Homo sapiens: one gene and its partners. The protein of the gene in region 2 purifies or fractionates together with the protein of the main gene of each other region. This does not show direct contact. Each region holds a gene or a part of one and is shown on either strand. Other genes may lie near its edges.

Evidence for each region.
Region 1: the proteins of ERN1 (region 2) and RNF13 purify together in Homo sapiens (affinity purification with western blotting; one study listed by BioGRID). This does not show direct contact.
Region 3: the proteins of ERN1 (region 2) and SEC24A purify together in Homo sapiens (co-immunoprecipitation; one study listed by IntAct). This does not show direct contact.
Region 4: the proteins of ERN1 (region 2) and SEC24B purify together in Homo sapiens (co-immunoprecipitation; one study listed by IntAct). This does not show direct contact.

Annotation. Positions count from the first base shown.
Region 1 is NC_000003.12:149,816,215-149,819,714, reverse strand, and holds part of RNF13 (E3 ubiquitin-protein ligase RNF13 isoform 1 precursor), read right to left. Parts: intron 2,429-3,500; exon of another isoform or gene 1-2,428. UniProt on the Homo sapiens protein: E3 ubiquitin-protein ligase that regulates cell proliferation. Involved in apoptosis regulation. Mediates ER stress-induced activation of JNK signaling pathway and apoptosis by promoting ERN1 activation and splicing of XBP1 mRNA.
Region 2 is NC_000017.11:64,038,642-64,040,893, forward strand, and holds the end of ERN1 (serine/threonine-protein kinase/endoribonuclease IRE1 precursor), read right to left. Parts: 3' UTR 501-2,252; downstream 1-500. UniProt on the Homo sapiens protein: Serine/threonine-protein kinase and endoribonuclease that acts as a key sensor for the endoplasmic reticulum unfolded protein response (UPR).
Region 3 is NC_000005.10:134,658,785-134,662,284, reverse strand, and holds part of SEC24A (protein transport protein Sec24A), read right to left. Parts: intron 1,167-3,500; coding exon 699-1,166; intron 556-698; exon of another isoform or gene 496-555; intron 1-495. UniProt on the Homo sapiens protein: Component of the coat protein complex II (COPII) which promotes the formation of transport vesicles from the endoplasmic reticulum (ER).
Region 4 is NC_000004.12:109,520,815-109,524,314, forward strand, and holds part of SEC24B (protein transport protein Sec24B), read left to right. Parts: intron 1-302; coding exon 303-358; intron 359-605; coding exon 606-812; intron 813-3,500. UniProt on the Homo sapiens protein: Component of the coat protein complex II (COPII) which promotes the formation of transport vesicles from the endoplasmic reticulum (ER).

The sequences.
Region 1 (3,500 bases), on a different chromosome or scaffold from region 2:
ATAAACTGGCTCGTCTCTGTATATTTAGCTTAGTCCCTTGCCATTCCTCCAGTCTTTTTCTCTGTAACCATGAGCACTTTCTCTTCTCCCAGACTCTCATTATATGCTTCTCTATGCCACCAAAATGCAACACAACTAAATGGTCTGTCACTCCCATTATTCCTTAAGCTCCTTAAAGTTAGGAGCTATACATTTTCTAATTCTGTATACAATACCTAGCATCTAGCACAATATCAGAGGCAAGTGACTGTTGTATAAATTAAAGTATGAAAGTGAGTATTATGATCCATTATTAAGGTCTAAAATACTATGGCTTATTTTTCCTTTACATAATGGCAATGGGGGAAACTATATATTAGGTAATATTTTGCTCTATTTTAAAAAATTACAATGTAATCTTACCGGTAAATAGCATCAACAAATTTTGTAGACATCTTTTCTTAAACATTAGTTTATTAACTAAGAGTATATATTTAGCTTGATGCTTATTCAATGGAAGCTCATGCTTGGCTCTATATTATCTACGTTAGTGAAGTGAAACATTAGTGCAAGAGATATTTTACAAGAAGTCGTAAAAACAGATTTTAACTGGACAATTCCAACTACTTCATTTACAGGTGAGGAAATGAACTGAGAGGTTAAGATATTTATGCAAAATCACCCAGCTAATTAGTGGGAATGTTGGGTGACACCCAGACTCCCATAATGTTGATGCTTTCAGCTACAATATAACTTTATTCCTATTCCAACCTCATAGATAAGCCAGGGGATTCTCTTTTTATTTTTATCTTATTTTATTTTTTTGAGACAGAGTCACGCTCTGTCACCCAGGCTGGAGTACAGTGCCGCGGTCTTGGCTCACTGCAACCTCCGCCTCCCAGGTACAAGCAATTCTCCTGCCTCAGCCTCTCAAGTAACTGGGATTACATGAGCACGCCACCACATCTGGCTAATTTCTGTATTTTAGTACAAATGGGGTTTTACCATGTTGCCCAGGCTGGCCTCGAACTCTGGTCTCAAGTGATCTGCCCACCTCAGCCTCCCAAAGTGCTGGGATTACAGACATGAGCCACAGTGCCCAGCCGGATTCTCTTCTTCTCACCCTCAATCTAGGGGGTATATGGGTCCTTAATACATGCCACATTTAACTGACTCCTTTAATCTTTAAGATGTAGCCTCTGCCTTAACACCTTCTCCCTGTAATAAACATTTGATGAGTACCTACGTTTGTTGAGCATTAAACACATCTAAGCCATTCCACTGGGAGGAAGGGGAAAAGGGAGAGACAAATGCGAATAAGAAAGACATGGTCCCTTCCTTCAAATGCTCTGCAAAATTAGTTACAATCTGGTATAGTATTCATTATTACCATCTGCTTAAATAGGTACAAATACATAGTACGAGAAAAATCTAATTACCGTCTATTATGAAAATGCACCTTATTTCTCCCATTAGCAGATAAGCTCCATGCAGGCAAGGATTTTTCTCTTTAGAACAGTGCCTGACAAAGAAGGTACTCAACAAATATTTGAGTGAATAAATGCTACAGAAAAACCCCTAAGTAGTAGGATCCAAGTAATGTTTCCAAAAATGGTATGACAAGAAAAGTAAACCTTCTTCTCATGCTCAACAACATTTTTCTGTTGGTTTACTGAGAACTTGACAGGAAACTGAAAATAGTTGAGATGGATATATTTTACTACTTAATTCAACATCATGCTCTACCCAATTGTACCAAACCCTAGAAAACCTTCCAAGAAAGGAAACCTACAGTCCTTCTATGACTTAGTCCTGAGCCCTTTTTCAAGTACAAAGGGTCTCCAGATGTTTTCCTTTTTTTCTTATAATAGGTTCTGGGATCTCTGTGTTTGCCCCCCACTTGTGAAGATAATAATACTGGTAACAAAAACATCTCAATTACTATCTATCATGTACCAGACCCTTTTCATATATTAACTCAGTATTTCAAAACAACTCTCAGAATTGGTATTGTCATCAACATGGTTTTACAGAATGGGAAAAATGGTAAGCCTCTTATCCTTTGAGTGTCTTCTTCCACAATCCTGGCTATAAGTAAAATACAATCTCATTAGCTGCACCCTGACTTTCATTGTTGCCCCCCATAACAAGCACACAGAGTCTCTGATTCTAAAGGTTTTGCTATTAACCAATTCAAGGTAACAAAGACAGGATAATAAAAATAACAAATCTGGAGATGTTCAAATGTTCAACAATTCAGCATTCAACATATGTTTATAAATGCCTGGTACCACACAAAAATCAGACTCTCAAAATTCTTACGGTGAGAATCCCTAGCCTCCAATTTACTAGCTATTTTTTGAATAAATGGGAGCCTTGCTAGGTCTAAAAGTTTTTCCTCCCCACTACCTTACCTCCTGATCTCCCAGGACACGAATCAAAATACACTAAAGGGAAAAATAATGGGTGCATCTTCATTGAGAAATCTGTACTTGTGAGTAATTTAAGGAGTCACATCCCTCTTGTGAAACTCTGACCCACAGAGGAGTGGTTACTTTTAGGTCATTTCCTTACAATGTAAGCATTTGTTCTCTTCCCTTTTCATAGAATACACAGAACTTCCAGTTTTCATTCTACATTTCCAAACGTCTGAACAACTCCTCAGCTCCAAAAGTAAACTCCCTATCATCCTCTCTCCTCCTAAATCTCCTTCCACCAAAACCTGTTCTTCATGATAATATCCTTATTTCTGTTAATAACATCACTATCCTCCCAAAAATTTGTCCTAGGCCTATACTCTGGTCAGTTCCCAGTGTCAATGTCATTATAATGTCAACATCTTTCAAATCTATACCTTCACTACGATCATCACTTCTTGCCTCAACTACTATAATTAAATTGCATGGTATTCCTACTTCTAGGCTTCCACTCTTCCATTGGACCTGTTCACAAATTATTATCCATAAAGAGAGTTTCTTCTTAACTAAAAATCATATATAAAATCTTTAGTCTGACATTTAAGAATCTCCATAATCTGTATCCATCTATCTTTACCAGTCTGGTCCTTAAACATATATCCTTACCAAATGTATTCTGCTTTTCCTATCTCTATACCTTTGCTTGGGCAGTGTCCTTATGTGGAACTTTTTTTTTTCCACCCTCCTTCAACTGCTAACAATCTTTCAAATGACCTCATCCTCAATGAAAAAAAAAAAAAGGCTAAGGCATATAATTTACTAAACATATACGCCATCTGATTGCTTCACAAATTATCTGAATCCCCACAAAAACAAGTAAGGAAGGAGTTAAGGAAATTGAGGAGGAGCTTCCCCAAGGTCACCAGCAAGTACGAATCCACAATAGCCCCACAGCATTCCATATTTTTTAATGAAATAAGACACAAAAGAGACAGACGTTCTGTAGTCAGAATACCTGTGATCAAATTCCAGCTACTCCACCAGCTACTTGTGTGAACTCAGAAGTTATGTATCTGTGATGCCTTAATTCCCCCACTTCCCACT
Region 2 (2,252 bases):
CTCCATAGAGAGGGTGCAGGGGAAGGAGCAGGTGTGTTGGGAGGATTGCAAAGTCCAAGCAGACGTCAGCTGAGCTCATTCCACACGCCGCTGTCCCACTCTTTGGGGGCACTCCCAGCCCTTGTTGGTCTCAATGGCATTTCTCCCCTCCTGGGTTTCCTGGTCTGGTATCCTACCTACTGTACACATGCCCCAAACTCTGCTTTGAAGCCCAATTCTCACCACGTGGCATGACTGTCCCAGCTGGCCACCTTCCTGGAATTCAGCCCAAATCAGTACTTTTGGGAACTTCCTGCAAGGTTTCAAAGAAGCTTTTCTGACACACAGCCACCATGGAGGGTGTTCCAGTCCCCGGACCCTGCTGTGGACATGAGGACACCCATCCCCCACCAGCCGAGCCAGCTGCAAAGGCCTCATAATCCAGCCCCGGCCACCCAGAAGGACAGTGAGCACAGCCTATCTGAGAATGGTATTTGAATCTTTAAGAAAATGAGACTGACTCCAAAATCTAAAACTACCTTTATTGTGGTTGGCTCGACATAAGATGCCGCCATCAGCAGAATTATAAAACTGTACAGGAGGCACAAAAATAGGCTGTTTAACTTAGATAATGACCCTCATGTCTTCAAGCTTTAAAAATGCACATAAAAGTTGTACAATCTGGCAGTTTATAAAATATAAAGCTAAAAAGAGGATTTTGGGTTCCACAAAGAAGACTGTATCACACAATTAACACGTACTAATTAAACAATTAACCATCCACACAGAAGACATAATGGCACAGAATTCTTAAAAATCACCTAAAAATTAACATTTTACCCCGACCAAATTAATCACCCTTTAATAATAAGACTACTGTAAAGCATCCATCCCATGGAAGGATACAGTATCACTTTTCCAGTTTTAAAATGGTCAAGGGTGTTGTCCAAAACAAATCTGATGTGCTTTAAGCAAGTACAATTGTAACTGGATACATTTCAGAGTAAAAATTAAATAAATATAAATAGGTTAAATAAATAGGTCATTGCAAAAAGAACACTACACAAGGTTTACATCTGAGAATGCAGAGTAGGTGACTGGTAATGCTTTCTAGGTAAGTGGGGACTCCCCATCACAGCTTTAGGGACACTGAAAAGGAATACTGTATCCACCAAACACACACACAGTACACAGGGGAGGTGGGGGGGCTTTGGCCAAAGTGTTGGTTAAGGCTGCTCCAGTGGGAGGCTCACTGCAGTCACGTTCTTTGTGGCTTTCCAACGTCTACAGAAAGAATTTAAGCGCCGGTACAAAAAATCAGAACCAGAGTTACTCACGGGAAATCACTGTTTCATAAAGAAGGAGGGGAGTAGACCATTGGGTTTAAAAGATGATGTCCAACCTGGGAGGGTGGAATTTCGGCTCACCTGGAGAGGATGCCTGATGACTTCCTGCCAGGAGAAGCCAAAGCCAGGACATAGTCAACCAAAATAACTCCAGGTTGGTGAGGGAAGGGACAAGGAAAAGAAACACTGGGAAATTCAAAGAAAGGCAATCTCAGACACTAAAAGAGCAGAGAGAGAAAGCGACATGGGGGACTTAAAGAGGCTCCTTCCAGGGCGCTGGGCTTCTCTTCCAGCACAGAAGGCTGCAAAAGTGGAACTGGCCCCCAGTTCCCAGAGGATCACAAGGCCAAGGATCCAATGGGCACACCATGAGGACCCAAGGAAAGGACAGAGAAAGGAACGGCTCTGGGAAAGCCAAACCTGGCCAAAGTCCAACTTCCTGAAAAGAAAGCAGCCAAGAGGAGAAAGCCGTACAATCCAAAGGTCCCCCCATCTGCATGAACGGTTTGATCAGCAACCAATTAATCTCTCACTGCAGCAAGAAAAGAATTGCCAAAGATAACTGAATCGCATGCACACAAAACCTTACCAAAGGCTCAGGGTCAACTCTGATAAGGCCCTTTCTTCTAGAGTTGGTGGGAAGAAACTCTGCTGGATCTACTCACCTGCAGATCTTCCAGAACATCTATCTGTAACTGATCAGAGTGATGTCTCCTTGGAAGGGCCTCTGACCACCACTGCACTGAGAACACGGCGGGAGTGAGAACACCTGCGCACCCAGGATTTCACACTTAGCCACTAGATTGCTTCACAGCTAATCAGGGAAATGCCAGTGTTCCCCAGGTGAAAATGTTTTGGTGCCTAATGACTTGTGGAGCACTTCAAAAACTGAGATTAGGCCGGGTGCGGTGGCTCAAGCCTGTAATC
Region 3 (3,500 bases), on a different chromosome or scaffold from region 2:
TACTCGGGAGGCTGAGGCAGGAGAATGGCGTGAACCCGGGAGGCAGAGCTTGCAGTGAGCCAAGATCACGCCACTGCACTCCAGCCTGGGCGACAGAGAGAGACTCCGTCTCAAAAAAATAAATAAATAATAAATAAATAAAATAAATAAATGTGGCCAGGTGTGGTGGCTCACGCCTGTAATCCTCGCACTTTGGGAGGCTGAGGTGGGCGGATTACCTGAGGTCGGGAGTTCAAGACCAGCCTGGCCAATATGGTGAAACCCCATCTCTACTAAAAATACAAAAAGTTAGCTGGGTGCAGTGGCACGTGCCTGTAATCCCATAATCCCAGCTACTCTGGAGGCTGAGGCAGGAAAATTGCTTGAACCAGGGAGGCAGAGGTTGCAGTGAGCTGAGATTGTGCCACTGCTTTCCAGCCTGGGTGACAGAGCAAGACCCCATCTCAAAAAAAAAAAAAAAAAAGAGAAAAAAGAATGAAAAAAAAAACTACTAATGAGTGTTATAGCTTACTTAATTTGTCTAGCAGGCTTTCTGGTTTTTGCTGGAAAGCCGAAAAACAAAAAACAACAAAAAACTACTAATAATTTTAAAAGTCACATTTTCCATATGGTTTTCAGGTTTCAAGTATTATTTCAAACATCTAAATAAGCAAAAGTTTCACATTTCTACATTTTAAGCACTTCTATAAGAATACTACCTGACTTTATGAAGCTATTTTGAAGTGAAGGATATCCAGAAGAAACATATTGATGATTTGTGGTTAAACTTGTATTTCCAGATACAGTTGGTTGGGATGATGCACGAGGACAATGGTTTGTTTGTGAGGCTGTGGATGGATAGTTATATTGCCAATTCAAAGGTGGTGGCAGGTTGGCTTCAGGAAGAAAGCTACTAGAAGGCATTGGTGTAGTAGCTGGGTTCTGAGAAGCAGGTAATGGCATTCGGGGAGCAGGACCACTATGAAGCGAAGGTGTCACTGGATTAGAGGCCACAGGTGGTCTATTAAGAGTCTGCCCAGATCCCTGAGAACCACCATAGTTAGACTGTCCAGAGACTGGATTCAAAGTCTTTGCTGGTATTGGATGAGGGTAGGATCCTGGAAGCTGGAAATTGTATCCTTGGCTCACTGACTCTTGTGAAGACAGCAATGCATTTTGGACAGGACCTTCCAATAAAAGGAGGAAAAATTAGTCTTACCAACGAATATAGCAATACTTTAAGAAATAAAGTAAAACATATATTCTTACAGTCAGCAATAAAAACACATAACTCAATTAAAAAATAAGCAAAGGACTTAAATAGACATTCAAACATACTTCCAAAGAAGATAGCTAATAAGCACATGCCAAAACATTCAACATCATCAGTCATTAGAGAAATACAAACATAATTAGTCATAACAGAAATGTAAATCAAAACCACAATGAAGGCCAGCGCAGTGGCTCACATCTGTAATCCCAGCACTTTGGGAGGCCAAGGCAGGTGGATAGCTTGAGCCCAGGAGTTCAAGACCAGCCTGGGCAACATGGTGAAACCCCATGCCTATAAAAAAAAACAAAAAGTAGCCAGCCTTGATGGTATGCGCCTGTAGTCTTAGCTACTTGGGGGGCTGAGGCAGGAGGATTACTTGAACCCAGGAGGTCAAGGCTGCAGTGAGCCAAGGTCACACCATTGCACTCCAGCCTGGGTGACAAAAAAAAAAAAAAAAGATGGACTAAACAGTAGCAAGTAACAGAGGGAATACAGAGATGTCTCAATAAATGAAAACATTTGTAAAAAAATAATATATAAGCATATGTTGGGTCACTTGGATAAAAATAGGCCATCTCACAGCCCAATGTTGCCACAAGATGTCCTGGCCTAGTTTCATATTTGTATTACAATTTTATTTACTTACTTATGGATTGATTGATTGATTGAGACAGCACTTTACTCTGTCATCCAAGCTGGAGTACAGTGGCACAATCATGGCTCACTGTAGCTCTGACCTCCTGGGCTCAAGCGATCCTCCCATCTAAGCCTCCTGAGAAGCTGGGACTACAGGCATGCACCACCACGCCGGCCTAATTTTTTTTTTTTTTTTTTGTAGAGACAGAGACTCACTATGTTGCCCAGGCTGGTCTCAAATTCCTGAGCTCAAGTAATCCTCCTGCCTCAGCCTCTATAAGCGCTAGGATTACAGGCGTGAGCAAACAGGTTGTATTTACAATCTTATCACAAGCTAATACGCTAAAGAGGTGCCTTCAAGCCAGGTACAGCCAAGTGAAAGCCAAATACCATCAAAATGTACAAAATAAGCAAAAATTTGACAGGCCAATAAAGATGAAAACATGCTGGGCATGGTGCCTCACACATATAATCCCAACACTTTGGGAGGCCAAGGCGGGCAGATAGCTTGAGCTCAGGAGTTCGAGACCAGCCTGGACATAATAGTAAGACCTCGTCTCTATAAAAAATATAAGAATTAGTTGGGTGTGGTGGCGCCTGCCTGTAAGTCCCAGCTACTTGGGGCTGAGGCAGGAGGATCACTGAGCACAGGAGGTTAAGGCTGCAGGGAGCTGCGTTCACGCCACTGCACTCCAGCCTCTGTGACAAAGTGAGACCCTGTATCCTGTCTCAAAAAAAAAAAAAAAAAAAAGAATATGAGGTCATAAGGCCAACTGGCAGGAAGACAGATACAAAAGAACTTGTTTTGTGGTAGTCACCATCATAGACCTATTGTGAGTAACTATTACATGAAAATTTTTTTTTCTGACATCCCTCCCCACTATGTGAAAATCATATATGGATCAATTACAAGTAGTTCACAAAAAGTGTAGTAATAAATATATAATGACACCTTCACTAAATGGATAATTTTTTTAAATTCTGAAGTCATTACTAAGTAGCCCATCAAAATAATGGGTCTGTGAGGCCAGGCGCGGTGGCTCACGCCTATAATCCCAGCACTTTGGGAGGCCAAGGCGGGCGGATCACGAGGTCAGGAGATCAAGACCATCCTGGCTAACATGGTGAAACCCCATCTCTACTAAAAATACAAAAAAATTAGTGGAGCGTGGTGGCGGGTGCCTGTAGTCCCAGCTACTCGGGAGGCTGAGGCAGGAGAATGGCGTGAACCCAGGAGGCAGAGCTTGCAGTGAGCCAACATCGCGCCACTGCACTCCAGCCTGGGTGACAGAGCAAGATTCCATCTCAATAAATAAATAAATAAATAAATAAATAAATAAATAAATAAAAATAAATGGGTCAGTGATTGTGAAGGGGTCCAGAATACGCTACTATGGCATAAAAATTATTTTAAGCAGAAGGCATTTGAGTTCCTAAAATCTCTTATCTGCCTAAAACAGAGCCTTCCAAAAGAACTCAATTGTCATAATCTACTTCCCAGGGGCAACCAGGAAAGATGTCAATCTGACTCATGACCTGAGATGAGAAATTTCCACACCACACCTAAACAGATATCATCACAAAACTATCATATCTATTCTAAAAGCCCATT
Region 4 (3,500 bases), on a different chromosome or scaffold from region 2:
AAACCCCGTCTCTGCTAAAAATGCAAAATTAGCTAGGCGTTGTGGCGCATGCCTGTAATCCCAGCTACTCAGGAGGCTGAGGCAGGAGAATCGCTTGAACCCGGGAGGTGGAGGTTGCAGTGAGCCGAGATCATGCCATTGCACTCCAGCCTGGGCAACAAGAGCAAAACTCCATCTCAAAAAAATAAATAAAATAAAGCAAAATTATAGTACACATTACATGTATGACCTGATAAAAACTAAGATTTTCTAATGTATTCTTTTGTTCGATTTGTTGATTAAAATATGTGTTTTCCCTATAGATGTTTTTCTACCTACACCGGATAGTTTACTTGTGAATCTATATGAAAGTAAAGAGGTAAGATTGATTTATTTTCTTAAAGCATAAAAATATTTATATTGTGACTGGTAACTAAAATATTTAACATTTGTTTACTTGATATATTAGTATTACAAATAATAGACAATATAAATGGCATATCTATTGACTCCTCAGTTTCCAGTCCCCAGAAATACAGTGACACATGATACACTATGGAATGTTTTAAAATAAGATTATTCCTTTGCCTTCTCAGTAATTCAATTTTTGATCTTTGTTTTCTCAGCTTATAAAAGACTTACTGAATGCATTACCAAACATGTTCACCAATACAAGAGAAACACACAGTGCCCTTGGTCCTGCACTTCAGGCTGCCTTTAAATTAATGTCTCCAACAGGTGGCCGTGTGTCTGTATTTCAGACACAGTTACCTTCCTTGGGTGCAGGACTTCTGCAATCCAGAGAAGATCCTAATCAGAGATCAAGTACAAAGGTATTTTATGTTTAGTTTTTTGTCATATTCAAGATTGTGTAATTATTTGTTTATTCTATTTCATTAATAATAAAATACTGGCAAGAGAGTTGGGTTTTTTTGTTTGTTTTTTGTTTCTTTTTTGAGACGTGGTCTCACACTGTTGCCCAGGCTGGAGCGCAGTGGCGCGATCTTGTCTCACTGCAACCTCTGCTTCCCAGGTTCAAGCGATTCTCCTGCTTCAGCCTCCTGAGTAGCTGGGATTACAGGCGTGCACCACCACACCCGGCTAATTTTTGTATTTTTAGTAGAGACGGGGGTTTCACCATGTTGGTCAGGCTGGTCTCGAACTCCTGGCCTGGTGATCCGCCTGCCTCAGCCTCCCAAAGTGCTGGGATTACAGGCATGAGCTACTGCGCCCGGCTGCCTGAGAGTTTTTTGTTTTGTTTTTGTTTTTTTTTTTTGAGACGGAGTCTTGCTCTGTCGCCCAGGCTGGAGTGCAGTGGCGCGCTCTCAGCTCACTGCAAGCTCTGCCTTCGGGTTCACGCCATTCTCCTGCCTCAGCCTCCCTAGTAGCTGGGACTACAGGCGCCTGCCACCACACCTGGCTAATTTTTTTGTGTTTTTAGTAGAGACAGGGTTTCACAGTGTTAACCAGGATGGTCTCAATCTGCTGACCTCGTGATCCGCCCACTTCAGCCTCCCAAAGTGCTGGGATTACAGGCGTGAGCCACCGTGCCCGGCGAGAGTTTTTAACTCAAATTATCTTTTTGGTTTTGTGTCACAGTATGTTCTTTTTATACTTTGTAAGTCATAGAAATTTAGAAATCATTTAGTCTAACTTTTTCATTTTATAGATGAGGAAGTAGAGTGTCTAGTTAAAGGTTAAATAACTATTTAATGGTAAAAGTGCAACTTGATTTTCTGACTCCAGTGTTCTTTTCTATTACGTAAGTGGTAAAACTTACTAAATGTAACTATTGTAATTCAACATGCTCATACTAATAAACTTTTTAATTATGAAGATAACACAGATCATTGTATAACACTTGGAAAGTGGAGAAAAGCATAAATCACCAATAATCTAACGATACTAGCATTTAGTTATACAAACATACAAATAAGCATAATTGGACATCATACGTGTGTGTGTGTATATATATGTGTGTGTGTTTGACCTTTTTCATTGGAGAATATATTGTGCGCATTCTCTGAAGTCACAGAGAAAGTAAATGTGAAAGTAATCAATTGATTGCTTTTCAGCTATTAAATAGTTGTCTTCAGTATTTTTTTCTTTTGTTTTTTAAAAGTAGAGACAACATCTTGCTGTGTTGCCCAGGCTGGCCTCAAACTGCCGAGATCAAGCAATACCCCTACCTCAGCCCTGCAAAGTGCTGGGATTGCAGATGTGAGCCAGACCTGTATTTGCACTATTTTTTTTTTAAAAAAGGGCTGGGTGTGGTAGCACCTGCCTGTTACCTTAGCTACTCAAGAGGCTGAGGCTAGAGGATCATTTGAGCTTAGGAGTTCTAAACCAGCTTGGGCAATGTAACGAGACCCTATCTTAAAAAATAACAATAATGGCCGGGTGCAGTGGCTCACACCTATAATCCCGGCACTTTGGGAGGCAAAGGTGGGTGGATCACTTGAGTTCAGGAGTTTGAGACCAGTCTGGCCAACATTGCAAAACCCCATCTCTCCTAAAAATACAAAAATTAGCTGGGTGCGGTGATGCAAGCCTGTAATCCCAGCTACTCAGATGGCTGAGGCAGGAGAATCACTTGAACCAGGGAGGCAGAGTTTGCAGCGAGCTGTGATCACTGCCACTGCACTCCAGCCTGGGCAACAGAGCGAGACCCGGTCTCAAAAAAAAAGAAAAACAATAATAATAATAACAATGAAAGGAATATACGAAGCTGAACATTACTTGGGTTTTATGTGAAGATTTGGTCAGGCATTTTTAAGCCCTATTTCAAATAATAAATGAACAAAAATATTCATTTTTCTTTTGTACAAGTTCTGTCTGGCCTTAACATATTTGAGAAAATATCATTATAAGTAGTTATGAGTATGAATTAAACAGTTTTAATAGTGTCATAAATCTTTAGCCACATATCCAGATTTGCCTTAGGATAAATTCCTAGAAGTGAAATTATTGGGTTAAAGGGCATAATCTTTAAGTTATTAAATAAAGAATGTTTTGTTTATTTGGGTTTTTTAATCAACTTCTCTTCTTAAGGACTCTCATCCTGTAACCACCATTAAGTAGCATTGCTTTTTTTATTCTTCACCAATATGCTAGAGAAAAAAAGGCACCATATTTCACCCTTTATAGAAATTGTATTTTAAAATTGCATTTGAGAAGGAAGCTAATTTTAAAATAAGTATGTATTTTAAACTCATCAACAAGTGTAGCTGGCATTTAGTTCGTTGACCCATTACAATCCATTATAAATTACTGTGGTGTTTTGAACACAGGAAGCTGATATATATTTACTGAATCCTTTGATAGAGCTTTGTTTTGATTTGTTTTGTTTTCTCATTTAACTTTCAAAAATATTCTCTATCTGTCTGCCTAGGACTCTAAAGTTTCAGTATCTGTTCTGGTTTACATATTCCTTCATATCCTTAATTCCTTATATTAGAGTAAGCTCTAATATAATCATCATACAGTGTAATTAAGAGGATTGAAACTTTTTTTTAGGAAAT